Homo sapiens: one gene and its partner. The protein of the gene in region 1 purifies or fractionates together with the protein of each later gene. This does not show direct contact. Each region holds a gene or a part of one and is shown on either strand. Other genes may lie near its edges. The genes, in order: ACAP1 and RAB11FIP3.

The links.
Region 2: the proteins of ACAP1 (region 1) and RAB11FIP3 purify together in Homo sapiens (affinity purification with western blotting, with the first as the bait; one study listed by BioGRID). This does not show direct contact.

What each region holds. Positions count from the first base shown.
Region 1 is NC_000017.11:7,334,898-7,338,805, reverse strand, and holds the start of ACAP1 (arf-GAP with coiled-coil, ANK repeat and PH domain-containing protein 1), read right to left. Parts: upstream 2,278-3,908; 5' UTR 2,072-2,277; coding exon 2,019-2,071; intron 1,544-2,018; exon of another isoform or gene 1,495-1,543; coding exon 1,437-1,494; intron 1-1,436. UniProt on the Homo sapiens protein: GTPase-activating protein (GAP) for ADP ribosylation factor 6 (ARF6) required for clathrin-dependent export of proteins from recycling endosomes to trans-Golgi network and cell surface.
Region 2 is NC_000016.10:480,881-484,688, forward strand, and holds part of RAB11FIP3 (rab11 family-interacting protein 3), read left to right. Parts: intron 1-1,644; coding exon 1,645-1,856; intron 1,857-3,808. UniProt on the Homo sapiens protein: Downstream effector molecule for Rab11 GTPase which is involved in endocytic trafficking, cytokinesis and intracellular ciliogenesis by participating in membrane delivery. Recruited by Rab11 to endosomes where it links Rab11 to dynein motor complex.

The DNA of each region.
Region 1 (3,908 bases):
GGAGGCTGAGGTGGGAGGATTACTTGAGGCCAGGAGTTCCAGACCAGCCTAGGTAACATAGGGAGACCCCATCTCTACAAAAAATAAATTTAAATTTAAAAAAGCCAGGCGTGGTGGCATGTGCCTGTAGCACAGCTACTGGGGAGGTTGAGGAGGGAGGATCACTTGAGCCCAGTATTGAAGCATCTGGGATCACAGCTGTGGCCACTCCATCCAGTCCATTGTTTAAAATTATTATTTGTAGGCCGGGTGCGGTGGCTTAAGCCTGTAATGCCAGCACTTTGGGAGGCTGCGGCAGGTAGATCATTTGAGGTCAGGAGTTCAAGACCAGCTTAGCCAACATGGTGAGACCCTGTCTTTACTAAAAATACAAAAAGAAAAAAAATTATCCAGGTGTGGTGGTGCACACCTGTAATCCCAGCTACTTGGGAGGCTGAGGTAGGAGAATCACTTGAACCTGGGAGGTGGAGGTTCCAGTAAGCCGAGATCGCACCACTGCACTCCAGCCTGGGTGACAGAGCGAGACTCCATCTCAAATAAATAAAAATAAAAATAAAATTATTATTTGTAGAGATGAGGTCTCACCATGTTGCCCATAAAACAATGTTGCCCACTAAATTTGTGACAATTTGTTACACAGCAATAGAGAACTAATATATAGCAAGCAAATACATAATGTGTCAGAGGTAAATGTTGCAGAGAAAAGTAAAGCGAAGTAAGGGGAATGAGAGAGCATTTGAGTGTGTATTTGTGTGAACATGCTGTTTGATAGAGTGCTCAGGGGACACCTTACTGTCTTGAATTGAAACGTTTCACTGGTTTGTCTTCTAGTCAGCCTTTGGGCTCCGTGGGAGCAGAAATGATCTTGTCCTCCCTGAATGCCCAGGGCCTGGCACAATGCAGGAGCTCAAGAGCAGAACAAGGAAGTCCAAAATTAAGTCTTTTTTTTTTTGACACAGAGTCTCGCTCTGTCGCCTAGCCTGGAGTGCAGTGGTGCGATCTTGGCTCACTGCAACCTCCGCCTCCCAGGTTCAAGTGATTCCTCTGCCTCAGCCTCTTGAGTAGCTGGAGCTACAGATGGGTGCCACTAAGCCTGGATGATTTTTGCATTTTTAGTAGAGATGGGGTTTCGCCATGTTAGCCAGGCTGGTCTAGAACTCCTGACCTCAGGTGATCCATTCACCTTGGCCTCCCAAAGTGCTGGGATTACAGGCATGAGCTACCATGCCTGGCCCAAAAGTAAGTCTTGTTTTCCAAGATCCTGAGCTTCTTGTCGGTACAGAACCACCTTTTTTGCTTCTCTGCAGTCTCCAAAATATCTCCCCTACACAGTATTCAATAATCCCTGGGATGCATTCTGTGTCTCCAGCTTTCTCCCTGGCCCTACCCCTCTCAACCTAATCCACTCCTGGGTCACCTCTCCATGTCAGGGTCACCTTTTCCAGACGGGTCTCCAATTCTGACACTTCGGCTTCCACCAGCTCAATAGAGGCTCTGGGAAAGAGGGGGTCATGGGAAGAGAGCTTGGGTCCATCTGGTCTGTCTGCCTCATCAGGCGGGATGGAGTCGCAGGGCGGTGGGTACGGAGGAGAAAGCTGCAGAGTTGAGAGGCTCGCCCCCCACCCACCTACTTGTGCTCTGCCCGCTCTGCAGTCTGGGAGCTACCACAGCCCAGGCCAGAGCAGGAAGGGTAGAAGGAGGGTGGATGTGGCCAGGGCAGGAAGTTGCTAACCGCCCCAGAGCAGGTGCTGGGGGAGGGGCAGGGGTCCCACTGAGAGGCCAGAGGGAATGCCAGCTCTAGGGGTGAGGGAAACTGCAGAGGCCAGGAGGAGCATGCAGGGGCAGAGAGCATTGGAGTACCCTGCTTTCACAGCTGGGGTACCACTTTGGCCCACAGGCTCGCTCCTGCCTCTTAGAGGCCTGCTCCCTGGAAGGAGACCTGGCCTGGGGAAAGGTGTGTGTGTGCTGGGGGTGTTAGACTTTCCCCTCCTTAGCCCCCCAGACCAGTTCACACTTACCGGAAACGGGGTGAGTCCTTGAGACACTCCTCGAAATCCAGCTTGACCGTCATCTCAGCTTGCCTGCTGTGGGGCCAGCGGGCCCTGGAGGCCGGGCCCCTGGGGATGCAGGTGGAGGCACTTTCTGTCCCAGGAAGGGGAGATGAGGGGGAAGGAGGAGAGGGACCTCCGCGGGGAAGGGCCTGGGGGCACAATTCTTTCCCCAAGGGGAAAGGGGTGTCCTAGGAGGAGCTCTCACCCCACACTTCCAGGCAGTGCTGGGAGGGGCAGGGGCGGGGCCTGGGCGGAGGATGGGGGCCTGAGATCAGAGAAGCCACAGCCCCACCCTCAGAGACGATCTGCCAGCTCCTTCCTCCTGGGGCTCTAGCCTCTGTTTCTTTCTCTCTTCGTGGTTATCTTGGGGGCCTGGCAGATCTAGGTTCAAATCCTGGCTCTGTCACTTAGAGGTTATGTGCCCCTGGACGAGCTCTCTGATTCCTCAGTTTTCTCATCTGGAAGATGGGAATGATAACCCCTTCCTCCAGGGCTGTACGAAGTGAAGAAGGTGATAGCAGTAAATTCATGGTTCACTAAATTTATTTATTTATGAGACGGAGTCTCCCTCCATCGCCCAGGCTGCAGTGCAGTGGCGCGATGTCGGCTCACTACAACCTCCGCCTCCTGGGTTCAAGCAATTCTCCTGTCTCAGCCTCCCGAGTAGCTGGGACTACAGGCTCCTGCCATCATGCCCGGCTAACTTTTTGTATTTTCAGTAGGGACGGGGTTTCACCTTGTTGGTCAGACTTGTCTCGACCTCCTGACCTCAGGTGATCCACCCACCTCGGCCTCCCAAAGTGCTAGGATTACAGGCGTGAGCCACTGTGCCCAGCTGGTTCACTATATTAATTGCATCAGTCATTGTCATCCTGCTACAGCTTGGGCCTGCTCCTGTGGAGTCCAGTACCCCGGACTGCTCCCAGCTTTCTTCGTTTTGCCGTCATATTCATGGTTCCTGTGTGTGAACTCCCCTTCCTCCTCCCCTCTCCTCAACGACTGAGCAGGCCCAGCCTGAGCACCCGATTCACAGCTCCCAGACTCTTGCTCTTCTGCTCTTTATTTCTATTCATAGGGTGGTCATGAAGGGAAGGTTGCCCCCACTCCGCCCCCAACCAGCCCCATTTTCCATTGTTTGCTTTCCTTTTCTTGAGTCCATTGAAGTCCCAGGGTTTCATCTGGAGAGAAGAGTTTGAGTTCATGGCTTTCTCGTAGCAGGCATGAGATCTTGTCCATGTGACTCTGGATCCCCTAGAACCTCCCCACTCAGCTCCTCTACCTCCCTGGCCAGTGTATGCATCCCCTTGCCTCTGCCCAGGCTCAGTGTGCCAGGCTGTGCTTGTTCTGGCTTGAGGAGTTGGGGTTGCTTCCACTCTCCCTCTCTGAACTCCTTGGGCTTTGCCAGCTCAGCCCCCCAGCCACCAGCTGGACACCACTTGAGACTCACTGTCTTTGGAGGACAGAGAAATACCTGGAGTGGGGTGGTGTGGCAGAGGAGTGAAGGAGGAGGCATGGAGCCAGTGTGTGGTGCCAAGCTGGAGGGGGTCCCAACCGCCTCTGAGTCTCCCTGGTTCCTCGCCTGTCCAATGTGGACCTTGGACTTGAGGCTGTTCAGGGCCTCTCCTTCCACCTGTTGCTGATGTACTGGCCTGAAAGAATTGGAGGGCTGGGAGATGGGAGCTTGCCAAGAGACAGCCCCAGGGAGATGGTGGCCTGGTGCCCTCAACAGGCTGCAATGTTGTCATTGTTGCCATCAGGGAGCTCTCCGTGGCCTTGTGATCCCTAAAGGGGCCTCCCATGTGGTCCAGTAGGTGGACTTCAGTGCTTACGGGGTTCTCAATCACCTAGGTCAAGCTT
Region 2 (3,808 bases), on another chromosome or scaffold:
GCTCACCACAACATCCACCTCCCTGGTTCAAGCAATTTGCCTGCCTCAGCCTCCTGAGTAGCTGGGATACAGGAGTTCGCCACCACACCCGGCTAATTTTGTATTTTCAGTAGAGACGGGGTTTTTCCATATTGGTCAGGCTGGTCTCGAACTCCCAACCTCAGGTGATCCTTCTGCCTCGGCCTCCCAAAGTGCTGGGATTACAGTCGTGAGCCATTGCGGCCAGCTGTTATATTTATTTTTAATTAATTAATTTTTTTGAGATGGGTCTTTATCACTCAGGTTGGAGCACAGTGGTGTGATCACATCTCACTGCAGCCTCGACCTTTTGGGCTCAAATGGTCCTCCTGGCTGGCGCTGTGGCTCACTCTTGTAATCCCAGCACTTTGGAAGGCTGAGGTGGGTGGATCACCTGAGGTAAGGAGTTTGAGACCAGCCTGGCCAACATGGTGAAACCCCGTCTCTACTAGAAATACAAAACTTAGCTAGGCATGATGGTACATGCTTGTCTTCCCAGCTACTCAGGAGGCTGAGGCAGGAGAATCACTTGAACACAGGCCACGTAGGTTGCAGTGAGCTGAGATCATGCCACTGCGTTCCAGTCTGGGCGATAAGAGTGAGACCCTGTCTCAAAAAAAAACCCCCAAAAAACAAAAAGCAAGCTCCTCCGTCAGTCTCTTGAGTAGCTGGGACCTACAGGCAGGTGCCACCACACCTGGGCAAGCTCCTCCGTCAGTCTCTTGAGTAGCTGGGACCTACAGGCAGGTGCCACCACACCTGGGCAAGCTCCTCCGTCAGTCTCTTGAGTAGCTGGGACCTACAGGCAGGTGCCACCACACCTGGGCAAGCTCCTCCGTCAGTCTCTTGAGTAGCTGGGACCTACAGGCAGGTGCCACCACACCTGGGCAAGCTCCTCCGTCAGTCTCTTGAGTAGCTGGGACCTACAGGCAGGTGCCACCACACCTGGGCAAGCTCCTCCGTCAGTCTCTTGAGTAGCTGGGACCTGCAGGCCGGTGCCACCGCACCTGGGCAAGCTCCTCCGTCAGTCTCTTGAGTAGCTGGGACCTGCAGGCAGGTGCCACCGCACCTGGGCAAGCTCCTCCGTCAGTCTCTTGAGTAGCTGGGACCTGCAGGCAGGTGCCACCGCACCTGGGCAAGCTCCTCCGTCAGTCTCTTGAGTAGCTGGGACCTGCAGGCAGGTGCCACCGCACCTGGGCAAGCTCCTCCATCAGTCTCTTGAGTAGCTGGGACCTGCAGGCAGGTGCCACCGCACCTGGGCAAGCTCCTCCGTCAGTCTCTTGAGTAGCTGGGACCTACAGGCAGGTGCCACCACATCTAGGTAAGTTTTGTATTTTTGGTAGAGACAAATTTCACTTTGTTGGCCAGGCTGGTCTTGAGCTCCTGGGTTCAAGCGATCCACCCACCGAGGCCTCCGAAAGTACTGGGATTACAGGCGTGAGTCACCGCGCCCAGCCTGAATTGTGTTTTATAAGTAATGTCTCTGCTTAGAGACAGTTGGGACTTCAGGCGTCAGACCCCTCCCTCCACACTGCCCTCTCCAGGGCCTTGCAGCAGTGAGGTGTGGGGCGTTCGCAGTTCCCCTCCCAGCTTGTGCCCGCTGACTGCTGGCGCACTCTCTCCTAGGCCAACGAGGTGACGGACAGCGCGTACATGGGCTCCGAGAGCACCTACAGTGAGTGTGAGACCTTCACGGACGAGGACACCAGCACCCTGGTGCACCCTGAGCTGCAACCTGAAGGGGACGCAGACAGTGCCGGCGGCTCGGCCGTGCCCTCTGAGTGCCTGGACGCCATGGAGGAGCCCGACCATGGTGCCCTGCTGCTGCTCCCAGGCAGGTCTGTACCCCGCCACGGGCCTCCTGGAGAGGCCTTGGGATGTGGCACCCTGTGGAGGTGTCTGATGGGCAGACTGGGGTCTTGGAGGAGTGCGTGCTGGTTAGCATCCATTATGTGGGGGTGGGGCTTGGCCCTGCAGTAGCTCCTGACCTTCCTGGGATGAGCCCACACCGTCCTGCCCGCCTTGCCCGAGCAGTCTCCCTGTTCCAGCTGACTTTCCTGTCAGGACGACTGTGGTTTCAAATGTTGCTCAACATCTTTAGCTGTAGAGATAGAAATTATAGAAGTGAATGTCTCGGCAGGGTTTTGGAACCCGTTCACCTTTGCAGCACCCCTGAGGAGGCCATGTTCTCTCCCCACCTGTCCCCCACCCTCAGGATTTCTGTAGCCCCCGTATTTCGAGCTAGTTGGGGCCGGAGTAGAGGGACGGGCAGAGTCTGGGAGAAGGTCAGATGAAGGAGGTGTCCAGTGGCTCACGTGGACCTGCTTTCCGTGTTGCCCCTGCTACTGGAAAGTCCGCTCAGCACGCTGAAGTGTAATTGTGAAGCAAAAATTAAATTCTCAGCCTTCAGCCAACTGATGGACCCCCTCTCTCAGCCTCAGGCGTTGCTCAGTCAACCTGAAAATGTAGTTCAGGCCATGGTTAGGGAGGTCAGGCAGGCCTCATTGGGCCCCTCCCTTTGGAACTGAGGCCCAGCTGACCAGCATTCACATTAAACAGACTCTGACAAAGGCGGACTTTTTATAGCAGCGACAGCACACCACATTCCAGCCTGACTCTAGTGTAGCATCACATGACAGGTGGCAGGCCCTGAAAGAAATCCGAGTATTTTACCCCAAAATAGATTTCTTTGACATTTTTCAGAATGGCTCTACAGGACTGTGTCTTGTGGGGAAAGTCTGCACCCTGTAGAGAATCTCCTCCCTTCCCAGGTCTTTTCCCTGGTGCAGGAGGGAATTAACTCGGAGTCTGGCACCTTGTGAGGTCTGCTGCCTGCTGCCTGGAGGCCTCATCTGCTTGATAAAGCCTTGGTCTCCACAGCCCCTTATCTTAAGCCGAGGCATTCCTTTCTATTGATTCCAAGTCTTTAGATAATAACTCTTTCAAACAAACAACTGCCAGTCAGAAGATCTTCGCATCTGCTTTGACCTGGAAGCCCGCCCGTCCCCCGCTTAGAGCCGTCCCATGTTTCCTGACTGAAGCAGCATCTTGCATGTAGGGTTGATGTCTTCTGTCTCCCCAAGATGCATAAACCCGGCCCTTGGGCACATGCTCTCAGGGCTTCCTGGGGCGGCATCACGGGCTGTTAGTCACTCTTATCTGGCTCAGAATAAACCTCTTCAAATATTTTACAGAGCTTAAGTCTTTTTGCCAACATAATATACCCACAAGTAAGTGCCCATGTTGTAAGTGCACAGCCAGCAGGTTTTTCAAACTGACCATTCCCACGGCCCTTTTCTCAGGCAAGAACAAAACACTCCCGCACCCAGGGTCCTCCCAGGCCCCTGACAGCAGCCAGCTCTCCACCGGCCCTGCATCTTCCTTAAGTTCCCCCACACAGGGAGGTCCTTCCTGTGCCTGGCTTCTTCCACTTGCTGTTGCGCTTGTGGATTTAGCCATTTTTTTTTTTTTGAGACGGAGTCTCGCTCTGTCGCCCAGGCTGGAGTGCAGTGGTGCGATCTCAGCTCACTGCAGCCTCCGCCTCCCAGGTTCCAGCGATTCTCCTGCCTCAGCCTCCCGGGTAGCTGGGATTACAGGCGCCCGCCACCACGCCCGGCTAATATTTGTATTTTTTAGTAGAGACGGGGTTTCACCATGTTGGTCAGGCTGGTCTCCAACCCCTGGCCTCAGGCGATCCGCCCGCCTCGGCCTCCCGAAGTGCTGGGATGAGAGGTGTGAGCCACCGCGTCTGGCCGTATTCAGCCCTATTTTTGTGCATTGCTGTAAACTG